Linked DNA regions of Homo sapiens. The protein of the gene in region 3 purifies or fractionates together with the protein of the main gene of each other region. This does not show direct contact. Each region holds a gene or a part of one and is shown on either strand. Other genes may lie near its edges.

Region 1 (3,752 bases), on a different chromosome or scaffold from region 3:
AACTCACACAAGTTCATGACTCAGGTGAGGAGTGGGGCCAGGATCCAAAGCTAGGCATCTGACCCCAGAGCTGATGCTGTTAATCACTGCATTTGCAGCTTCCCTAATGAGGCAGGCTTGGGTCCCCAAAAGGGGATATACCCATTCAGTCTTGTCTTTAGTTTAAGGCCTATGCAGAGCAGTTTATAAATACATGTTTGCTGAATCAAATGACTTCTGAATGAATACATGAATTAGGTGAGAGAGATCACCAGGAAGGGACAGTTCAAATAATCTGTTGGAGGTGGAGCTTGGGCAAACTGGGTTTGCAGTGGAAGGGAGAACACAGGTACAGGCAGCAGTGACCCAAGGTGCCAGGGAATGAGGGACCAGCTTGCCTGGAGGAGAGTTACCCCATCCATTCAATTAATCCCTGTTTGTATCTCTTCTTTTCCCCAGCCACCCGCACATGAACTCCCCAGAGCTATTTGGGCCCTGTGATGGTAGTCCACCCTGGCCTTCTGGCCTCCCTGCCTCCAATTCCTCCTGACTGCAGCCTTCCTCTTTGTTGCTAACAGATTCTTCTTCCCAGGCGCATGGTCCTGATCCTGTAAGGCCCAGGAGAAGCTCTCTCAGCTCAGAGAATCCAGACTCCCTAAGGGGACACTCAGCAATCTTTTCCCACATTATCACATGTCCACACATCACCAGTCCTTGAAGGCTGGGCTCAAATATCCTCCCTCCCATGAAGACTGCTTCACAAAAGACACTTGATTTCACAAAAGAGACTGCCTTCTTCTTCCCTCTGTACCCTCACAGCTCACCTTTTTTTTTTTTTTTTTTTTTTGAGACAGGTCATATTCTGTCACCCAGGCTGGAGTTCAGTGGCACAATCACAGCTCACTGCATCCTCTGCCTCCGGGACTCAGGTGATTCTCCCACCTCAGCCTTCCGAGTAGCTGGGACTATAGGTATGCGCCACCACGCTCAGCTAATTTTTGTATTTTTTGTAGAGCCGATCTTTCACCGTGTTGGCCCTGCTGGTCTCCGATTCCTGGCCTCAAGTGATCCACCTGCCTCAGCCTCCCAAAGTGCTAGGATGACAGGTGTAAGCCACCACGCCCAGCCCAGGCCTCTTACAACACTGACTTATCTGATCGTGCGGGTACTTTTGAGTCTATCTCAACCCCTCCCCCTTGGCTGTCTTCCATAGATGCACACGCGCACCTCCCGGGCAGGCAGCGGACGCTGAGCAAACGGACGGACGGGCTGGAGGGCTGGCAGTGGGGTGCAGGAGCCAGCCATGAGAACCCCTCAAGTACAGTTGAACTCGCTGGGAGGTTACTGCTGTACTCCCGGGGTTTTGCTATGGCCTGACTGGGGCCAATGTGTGGAGGGTGAAGGAGGATGGGGAGGCAAAATGGGAAGAAGGGGACCTATTTCCTGAGGTTGTTGTGACGACTTGGCTGACAACACACGGAGAGGATGGAACCAGTTCTGATACTAGTTTTTAGGATTTGAGGGGAGGAAAAAGGAGCAGGAGTCGCACCACTTAGGAATCCCAACGTGAGGCCGCTGCCGACTGGGCTTCCTAGTTGCCTACCCGCTCCTCGCTGTGGGGCGATTCTGAAAAGTCCTCTCTGCTGATACGGCGGACGCCGCGCGGGCGGGGACGGCACCGCGCGGGGAGGGCAGCAGGCGTCGCCCTCGAGCAGGTGGCATCCGCGCCCGCTCCCCGTCCCGGGCGCGTTCACGGCTGGGAAAAATTTTGCAGTCCGCTGAAGCGCTCAGCGACGTTACTGGGGAAGCCCAGGAAGGAACTTGGTCACTGGAGCTCGGGAGGGGGCCGGCGGGGGGGCGCAGGCCCCGCAGGAGAGGCTAGCGGGCCGGAGCCCGTCCTTCCCTAAGGCCACACAGTTCCTTGCTGACTCCATGAGGGACACTGGCGATGAAATAACAACTTTCTCTTCCTGAAAAGGCTCCCACGGCTGAGTTGTTCCCGGCCCACAGCGACCCGTCCCCACCCGTCTCTGATCGGCAACCGCCTCGAGCCCGGCGCGTCCACCCAGCCTGGGTGCTGCCCAGTACCCGCCGGCCGGCGCGGGGCCCCTGGGGCAGGCTTCACTCACCAAAGCAGTGCAGCAGGCAGACCACGCTGAGGACCCCCAGGGCCCGCCCCGCGTCGCTCCCAGCAACCATGGCTCGTCGGGCCGGCCTCTGCGCGAGTGCCCAGCCACAAGCAGCCCTAAGTTCAAGCACCGCCTACGCGGTCGGCCAGAAGTAGGGCTCCGCCCCGCCCTGGGCTGGCAGCCGGCGGCCCGCCCCGGCCCTTCCTCCCCCACCCTCCGCGGCGCCGCGTTTGTCTTCGCGCTTCCACTCCCCGGGCGCGCCTCTGGCCTCGGCTCTGCGCGCCTCCTTCCTGTGTCCCCGGGGCGCCGTCCAGTCCCCCAGCTCGGTCCCTCCCGTCATTCCGCCGCCATTCCATACGCTATTTTTAAGTAAGAAATTCTTTCCTTGAAAATGGCTTGGTTTTAAAAACCAAGGTTTTAAAGTAAGAAATTCTTTCCTTGAAAATGGCTTGGTTTTAAAAACCAGGTTTCTCTGCCTTCCTACCGCACCTCCCGCGCTTCCCCTTAGCGTTTGGGGCGTGCTGTAGGCCCCTCCGTGGCTAGACGGGGCTGTGGCTCCCAGAGAGCCACCGGAGGAGGCAGCAGGACGGGCGGGAGCACCCGGGGCCCCTCATCCCTTCAGCGCTGTGTGATCCCGCATCAGACGGCCTCTTTGAACCACTTTTCCTCAAACATGACAAGGAAAGGGAGCATTTTAGACAACTGTTAGGCGTAGGGTTACCTGAGGCAGGCCTCCCCCGTCCCCATACTCCCTTATCCCCGGAGCTGGGATTTCCAGCCTTTGGTTTCTCCCTTCTCAGATTCCTCTTTTTCTGTCTTCCCCCATCTCAACCGGGACTTTCCCTCAGGCTGAGATGTCAGATCCACATCTCCCTCACTGCCCAGCCTCCCCACATCCATCCAGCCCAAGCTGAGGCAGGCACTCATCACTCTCCCCGCTCTTCATCAGTCTGGATTGAGCTGGCCCTCCCCTCACATCCCTATATCCCAGAACAAATGACCCTATTCCCAGAACCAGCTCCTCACATCAGCCTCCCTGTCTGTCCCCTTTCTTGCAGACAGAAGCACCAGAGTTGCCCCTGCCCAGCTGAGGGAGTTCACAGAACTCTTAGTTATTATGTGAGCAGGAATCCATTTCCATGAACAGGACTCCCTGCTGCCCAAATAACCACCAACACATACATGGTGCAGGTTGTGAAACTGAGTGGGAATGTGCTTTCTTGCTGCTTCACCTCCATTATCCCCAGGTGGGGACTCGAAGTCACTCAAGACACTTGAACCATATTGCAAAGAGACATGAATTATTTCTTAAGTTAGCCATAAAATCTTAAAAGGTATCTCTATCAGTGAAACTTCTGGGACCAATGCCCTCTACCACAAACCTGCTATCTCGAGATATTCCCTACCATCTGTAGATACTGGGAACACAAGGCAGGGGCAGTGTGTAACATAAAATATGAGGAAATCAAGTGTTCTCTGCCCTGGGCTGGTAGGAACTCAGGCCAACTTAGAAAGGCAGGATGGGGTTAGACCTTCAGACACTGGGGAGCCACAGAAAGTTTTTGAGCTGGGAAGTGATATGACAGCAAACATCTATTGAGCAGGCCCTGTGTGAAGTGCATTGCTTGGATTAACTTAGTCTTA
Region 2 (3,752 bases), on a different chromosome or scaffold from region 3:
TGGTGTGACATATGAATGACGATCACCCAGGAAGTTCTGATGACGTGGCTTCTCTCAACAATGTTTGCTAAGCTTCTTTAAAGCCTCTTTGGCTCTTAGGGAAGGTGTGTTTCAAAACCTGTAACAGGAGTCCCCGCCTAGAATGGCTCTTCAGTGTTACTCCTTCCTCCCAGCGGAAGCAGCCTTTGTTTTTTGTTGGGTTTTTTTTGTTTTTTTTGTCTGTTTGTTTTGTTTTTTGAGATAGGGTCTCACTCTGTCACCCATACTGGAATGCGGTGGTGTGATCACAGCTCACTGTGGCTTGGTCCTCCCATGCTCAAGAGACTCTCTTTGCCTCAGCCTCCTGAGTAACTGGGACCAAAGACATGCACTACCACACCCAGCTGATTTTTTTATTTTTAGTAGAGATGAGATCTTCTCTTACTGTGTTGCCCAGTTTGTCTCGAACTTCTTGGCTCAAGTGATCCTCCCACCTTGGCCTCCCAAAGTGCAAGTGAAAGCCACTGCAACTGGCCAGAAGCAGCCTTTGATGTTGGGTCTACTGCTGCCCTCAGCATTGAAAGAAGTTTCAACCATCCTTTTCACATTTTTTTTTTTTTTCTGAGACAGTCTCACTCTGTTGCCTAGGCTAGAGTGCAGTGGTGTGATCTTGGCTCACTGTAACCTCCACTTCCCTGGTTCAAGTGATTCTCCTGCCTCCTCCTGCCAGAGTGGATGAATGGTTCTTCTTCTTCTTGACCATCTAATCATTGTCCACTCAGACTTTAAAACTCTGCATCAACATCACCTTCCAGGTTCTTCCTTCTCTCCACTATGCGATGCCTGGCATTGAAAATTTCTGTATATGACTTTATCATGGTGTGTTATAGTTATTTAATATAGCTGGGGTTACAGGTGTGTGCCATCACGCCCAGCTAATTTTTATATTTTTAGTAGAGATCAGGTTTTACCATGTTGGCCAGGCTGATCTTGAACTGCTGACCTCAGGTGATCCGCCTGCTTCCACCGCCCAAAGTCCTGGGATTACAGATGTGAGCCACCACGCCTGGCCCCTTTTCACATTTTTTTATACATGGATAAATAAGATAGAGATTAGAATTCTTACATGCTAGGTGTATTTTCCCTCTGATAGTTTTACAAAATAGTCTAGGTGTAGAATGTGTGGAACAGACTTCTTTTGTGTTTTCTAATCCTAGGGTTCCTGGGTTTCTGAGAATTTGTTTGTCTTGAAGATTCCTTTAAGCCATATACTCCTTGCATGCTTGTCTGTGCCCCTGCCTTCCAGGTACTATGGGTGTATGGGGGTTCCTTCTATCTTGAGTTTTCAATTTTATTTTTTGAAAGAGAATACAAAATAGGTTGGGTCCTATGCCACCTTGTCAGTGATATGGTTGTGCATACTGTTGATATCAGTTAAAAGGGTGATCACAGGAGCATATATATATATATGTTTTTTTTTTTTTTGCATAAGGCCATAAGTTAAACAAAGAATTCAAACAAAGACAGTAGGTATATGAGTGAGAATGCTTTAATTGAACTGGTATTTGTACAAGGTGACACCCTGTTGCATACCACACACCTCCTCCCTGAGTGACTCAGCCGCTGAGCAAGAAACCTCTGAACTGTTCACTAATACAGTCAGGTAGAGGTTGAGACTCCACTGAATAAACTCTAGGTTCCCATTTCTTTCAGCCAGATCCTCCCAGGGAATCACTACAGGCTGGTTAGCCAAAAAGTCCTGATTTTCTGCTCAATAGAGGTAAGTTGAATTATACTTGCAAACAGAAATACATCTGCTGTATGTGCACAGCTTTCTCTGTGTTCCTTACAAATGATTAAAATTAGAACTTACTGTATTATCTTTGTCTTTTCTTCCTGTAAATTTTGACAGCCTCCAGCTGGCTGTTAGCTCTGCTCTTCCTTGCTGTACTTTTAGGTCACATTGCATTGAACTTCTTGGCAATTTTACACGTTATGGGCATCACAGAAACGAGCACCTATTTGATTTTCTGGGTGGGAGCTGTCAGCTGGTGAATCCTGCCACACAAAGGATAATAAATTCTTTAAGTGAAGGGACCAGCACCTGCTGGTTTATTTTCTCAAGCGACTATACAAACATTTTTTAAAGGATCTTTCTGTTTTCATAAATGATGCTTTTAGTGAAATAGTGAACTCAAATATTGCTTTATAGTTAATAAGTCATATTTATTTTTTTCTCTACTGCTAAAAATATTGCAAGTTGCTGAGCTATGAGAGAGAGAGAGGTTTATATTTATGAGGTTTTTGTCTCCACCCTATCTTCCCCAAATAAGAAAATCACCATTTCTCACTTGAAAGTACCAAGGAGTAAAGGCAGGGTGTGGGAGCAGAATAAGGGTACATGGTTCCTCACAGGGATCTGTGGGCATCTGGCCAACTTCTCTATGGTATATTCTGCATTCTAACCTAAGGAGTGATTAATGTATATGGGGGCAATTTTCAAACTTTATTCATAGCCTAGTCCTGAAAAACCAGTTTTGGGAGACTTTTGATAAGGCTAGAAGAGTTCTTTTAACAGAGCTTTCTTTTATAATTAATAGCTAAGCTGACTTGTGTTTTTTCTCATCATTTCTATTTATGATACAGAGCTGTGGGATTCAAATGCAGGGGCCACTCACAGCTTGCAAATTGCAGCTCTGTGTCCTCCAGAGAGGTGCCCCCACAGCATACCTGGCTCTATCTGTAGTACTTGAGTTCTCATGGCTTCCTATTGCTGACAAGGTCACCTGCAGTCTGAGAGGGGGTTAGACACACCAGTGCTCATTTCCCAAAGGTTTACAGAAGAATTTTACAACTTGGCTTTCAAGTGTTTATAGTAACCAGAAAACTAAAGTGTAGCAAGTGTGGATAATTTTATTTTTCATAAAATGTGATTACATTTAAAACTGTCTTTCACTTCCATAGTTTATAACGTAGATAAAGCCTTCCTAATATATGTGGTGCTCCAGTGTTTAAAGTATTGGAAACATCAATTTGAGAAAACTGAGAAATGACAACAGTAAAAATTTTAGTAAAACATTCAGATGATCCTAAATGTCGGGATATGCATAGAATGCCAACAACAGGCCAGAATTTTTATTGGAATGTTAGCGTCGTATAAATCTTAGATCTAATTGACAGAATATTTCAACTGAAACGGAGCATAGGCCCATCTAGTCTAATGCCTGAATTTTCTAGTTGAGAAAATCAAAGCATAAATGTTAAGCAACTTGTGAAGATCAGAGTAGCAGAACCAGAGCACGATGCCAGATTGCTTGTCTTTTGTCTTACTGAATTTTCTCAATATTTTTTCAAATGCTTTTTATCATAAAATATGTAGTAGCAATAAATGAGCCACACTCCATCACAGACTGTGGTTACCCAGCACATGTGGAAATATTATAGTGTGTATGGTATGACTAAGACATAATAGAATACGTTTTCCAACTTGTGGCTTATGGAATCAGTGTTGCCGTTTATTATATTTATGAGATTTTCATCTCAGGAGCCAGTAGCCCCTCAGCAGGGAGGGGATCTGATGTATGTGTGTTAGCTGTGGTCTGTACAATCAGAACACCCTTGCCTCGAATGCCATTCTGTAGGTGATGCTTACCTGACTGCCTTCTCAGACTACCAGAATTATGATGAAATACCTGAGAGGTTCATATTCCTGGGGACTATGTAAACAAAACAAATTTTGAATGACTGAGCTCATACTGTGGAATGAACTGAAC
Region 3 (3,652 bases):
ACGCCACTGAAATCACCAAATGTGTAAGGATTATTAGTTATGTCAAAATGTAAAAGACAAAGGGAGAAGCTGCTATGTGCCTAATATTTTATTTGACAGCAATTTTTTATTCTCAGTAAAATTATAGAAGAACTTTTTTGATTATTCCACAACTCAATCAGATAGAACCAATCTGAATCAGCCTTAACAGTTGTTTATTATTACTTAGAGTAGGTCAGTCCAGATTATACAACTTTTTCTATATCCTTTATGAAATAATGTTTGTCTTTAAAGAACTTACTTTAACAGTGAATTTCATATTTAATATTGTGGCTTTAAAATAGAAAATAGATGCATGTAAATGTTTATGTCCATAAACATGCTTAGGATACCATGCTGATTAGGAAAAATAGAGATGAAACTAAATCACAACTCTTGTTTTTTATTTAAATGTGTGTGTGTGTGTGTGTGTGTGTGTGTAAAAGACTAGAGGGAAGTTTCAAAAACAGTGCTTTGACAGTGTGCCCACTTTTTTCTTTTGATTTCTCAAATTTCTCTACAGTAAGCATATATTACTTTTAGTAATTTTTATTAAAACTCACTTTAAAAACCTGCTCATGTTTTAATCCATTAATTTTCCTTAATCCAGTAGGTTTCCTTATAGCAAACTACCCTGTGGAATTTATTTATTTATTTGTTTATTTATTTATTTTTGAGACAGTGTCTCGCTCTATTGCCCAGGCTGGAGTGCAGTGGTGCGATCTCGGCTCACTGCAACCTCCACATCCCGGGTTCAAGCAATCCTCCTGCCTCAGCCTCCTGAGTAGCTGGCACTACAGGTGCCTGTAACCACGCCCAGCTAATTTTTGTATTTTTAGTAGAGACAGGGTTTCACCACGTTGGTCAGGCTGGTCTCGAACTCCTGACCTCGTGATCCACCCGCCTCGGCCTCCCAAAGTGCTGGGATTACAGGCATGAGCCACCACATCCGGCCGGAAATAATTTAAAATGTGCTATATTATAACATTATTTAAAATTACAGTATTTAAAACTATCTAGATGTCTAACAATAGAAGAATGTGAAGTAAATGATGGTACAGTCATAGGATGGAATATCATATGACTATTAAAATGTTATTTACAGTGGTTTTGATAATATGCCAAGATACTTATTATAAATGCAAAGTGGAAAATCGATTTAAAATTTTATATGTGGGGCCAGGTGTGGTGCCTCACACCTGTAATCCCAACATTTTGGGAGGCCAAGGTGGAAGGATCACCTGAGACCAGCCTGGCCACATAATGAGTCCCTGCCTCTACAAAAAGTAAACAAAATTAGCCAGGTGTGATGGCATGTGCCTATAGTCCCAGCTAGTTGGGAAGCTAAGGTGGGAGGATCATTTGAGCCCAGGAGTTCAAGGCTGCAGTGAGCCATCATCATGCCACTGTTCTCCAGCCTGAGTGACAGAGCAAGACCTTGTCTCCAAAAAAATAAAAAGAAAAGAAATTGTATATGTTATGTAATGTCTACATTTTTTTAAATGCATGGAAAAAAGCCAAAATGTTAACTGCAGCACTCTGCTGAAGCGAGAATGCAAAAGTGATTGTGTGCCTTCTATCCATGTTGTTTACTAGGTGGATTTTAAACGTCTGCAAAGTGTGCAAATGTTAAAATGTGATTTAAGCCTACTTGTGCTCTATGTTTCATATTTGTTTCATTTTGAGATAGGCCTGAACTTTTCCGATTAAGAGTTCTTGAGTTAAATGCATCTGATGAACGTGGAATACAAGTAGTTCGAGAGAAAGTGAAAAATTTTGCTCAATTAACTGTGTCAGGAAGTCGCTCAGAGTAAGTAAATTTGCCCTCCCTCCTCCATAGCATGTATTATTTTAAATATGTATTTCTGCCATCGCTCCTCAGCCTTTTGGCTAAGATCAAGTGTATTTCTGCCAAATTGTCAACTTTTCATGTTAGAAGACTATCCTGCCTGAGGTAAACAGGGATTTAATCAACTACTTATGCTCCTTAGGTGGCAAAGGTCCAGGATTACATTGGTGGTACCTAGACATATGTGTAAATTTTACATGAGCACATTTCAAAATTTGTGAAAGTGAATGACTAATTTTTGATATGCACCTTAAATTGATGGTGCAGTCAGTCACAACCGCTATAGCACCTAATGTATTTTTATGTGAAATGAAGACTGGGAGGTGGACTAAAAGACTCTGAGATCCCTTCTACCATTAATACTTGAAATCTGTTTTCTTGGTATAATTTTCATACAATTATGTTAATGCCACTTTTGGTGGGAGAAAAACTTTAATGGCAGATTACCAAAAATCAATGTACAGAAGGTAATAACCCGCAACGTGGGAGAAAATATTTACAAATCATATACCTAAAAAGGTACTTATATCTAGAACATATGAAGAACTTTAAAAACTCAGTAATAAAAACAAATAACCCAATTAAAAAATGGGCAAAGGCCGGGCGCAGTGGTTCACACCTGTAATCCCAGCACTTTGGGAGGCCGAGGCAGGTGGATCACAAGGTCAGGAGATCGAGACCATCCTGGCGAACATGGTGAAACCCCATCTCTACTAAAAATACAAAAAATTAGCTGGGTGTGGTGGCGGGCGCCTGTAGTCCCAGCTACTCGGGAGGCTGAGGCAGGAGTATGGCGTGAACCCAGGAGGCAGAGCTTGCAGTGAGCCAAGATCGCACCACTGCACTCCAGCCTGGGCGACAGAGCAAGACTCTATCTCAAAAAAAAAAAAAAGGCAAAGGATCTGCATAGACATTTCGTGCATGTGTAATAAGCACATTAAAAGATGCTCATCAACATCATTATCCATTTGGGAAATGAAAATCAAAGCCACATTGAAATACCACGTAACTCCCACTAGGATGGCTATGATAAAAAATACAGAAAATAACTAGCATTGACAAGGATGTGGAGAAATGGTAAACCGCATACATTGCTGGTTGGAATGTAAAATGGTACAGCCTCTTGGAAGACATGTCTGCTCAAAAACATGTACACAAATGTTCACAGCAGCATTATTCTTAATAGCCAAAACATGGAAACAGCCCAAATGTCCAACCGATTAATGGATGAATAAATGTGGTGTATCTATTTGCCATAGTATTTGACAATACAAAGGAATGACGCAAACACATGCTACAATATGGATGAACCTTTAAAATATGTTAAGTGGAAGAAGTCAGCCACAAAAGACTGCATATTATATGTTCCATTCATATCATGTCCAGAATAGGCAAATCTATAGAGATGAAAGTAGACTAATGATTGCCTAGAGCTGGGAATGACTGGGGGAAGAAGAGTGACTCCTAATAGGTACAAAGTTTCTTTTAGGAGTGATAAAAATGTTCTAAAATTAGATTGTGGTAATGGTTGCACAACTTTGTGAACATACAGAAAAACACTGAATTGTACATTTTAAATGGGTGAATTGTATGGTACGTGTATCTTTCAACAAAGCTGTTAAAACCAATATACATATTAATGTTCAACTCTTATGTGTTTCTCTGAATCAGTGGGAAGCCGTGTCCGCCTTTTAAGATTGTGATTCTGGATGAAGCAGATTCTATGACCTCAGCTGCTCAGGCAGCTTTAAGACGTACCATGGAGAAGGAGTCGAAAACCACCCG

What was found.
Region 1: the proteins of RFC4 (region 3) and CD58 purify together in Homo sapiens (affinity purification with mass spectrometry; one large-scale study listed by BioGRID and IntAct). This does not show direct contact.
Region 2: the proteins of RFC4 (region 3) and SCEL purify together in Homo sapiens (co-immunoprecipitation; one large-scale study listed by IntAct). This does not show direct contact.

What each region holds. Positions count from the first base shown.
Region 1 is NC_000001.11:116,568,795-116,572,546, forward strand, and holds the start of CD58 (lymphocyte function-associated antigen 3), read right to left. Parts: upstream 2,233-3,752; 5' UTR 2,179-2,232; coding exon 2,109-2,178; intron 1-2,108. UniProt on the Homo sapiens protein: Ligand of the T-lymphocyte CD2 glycoprotein.
Region 2 is NC_000013.11:77,534,066-77,537,817, forward strand, and holds the start of SCEL (sciellin), read left to right. Parts: upstream 1-1,640; 5' UTR 1,641-1,759; intron 1,760-3,752. UniProt on the Homo sapiens protein: May function in the assembly or regulation of proteins in the cornified envelope. The LIM domain may be involved in homotypic or heterotypic associations and may function to localize sciellin to the cornified envelope.
Region 3 is NC_000003.12:186,792,834-186,796,485, reverse strand, and holds part of RFC4 (replication factor C subunit 4), read left to right. Parts: intron 1-1,708; coding exon 1,709-1,828; intron 1,829-3,538; coding exon 3,539-3,652. UniProt on the Homo sapiens protein: Subunit of the replication factor C (RFC) complex which acts during elongation of primed DNA templates by DNA polymerases delta and epsilon, and is necessary for ATP-dependent loading of proliferating cell nuclear antigen (PCNA) onto primed DNA.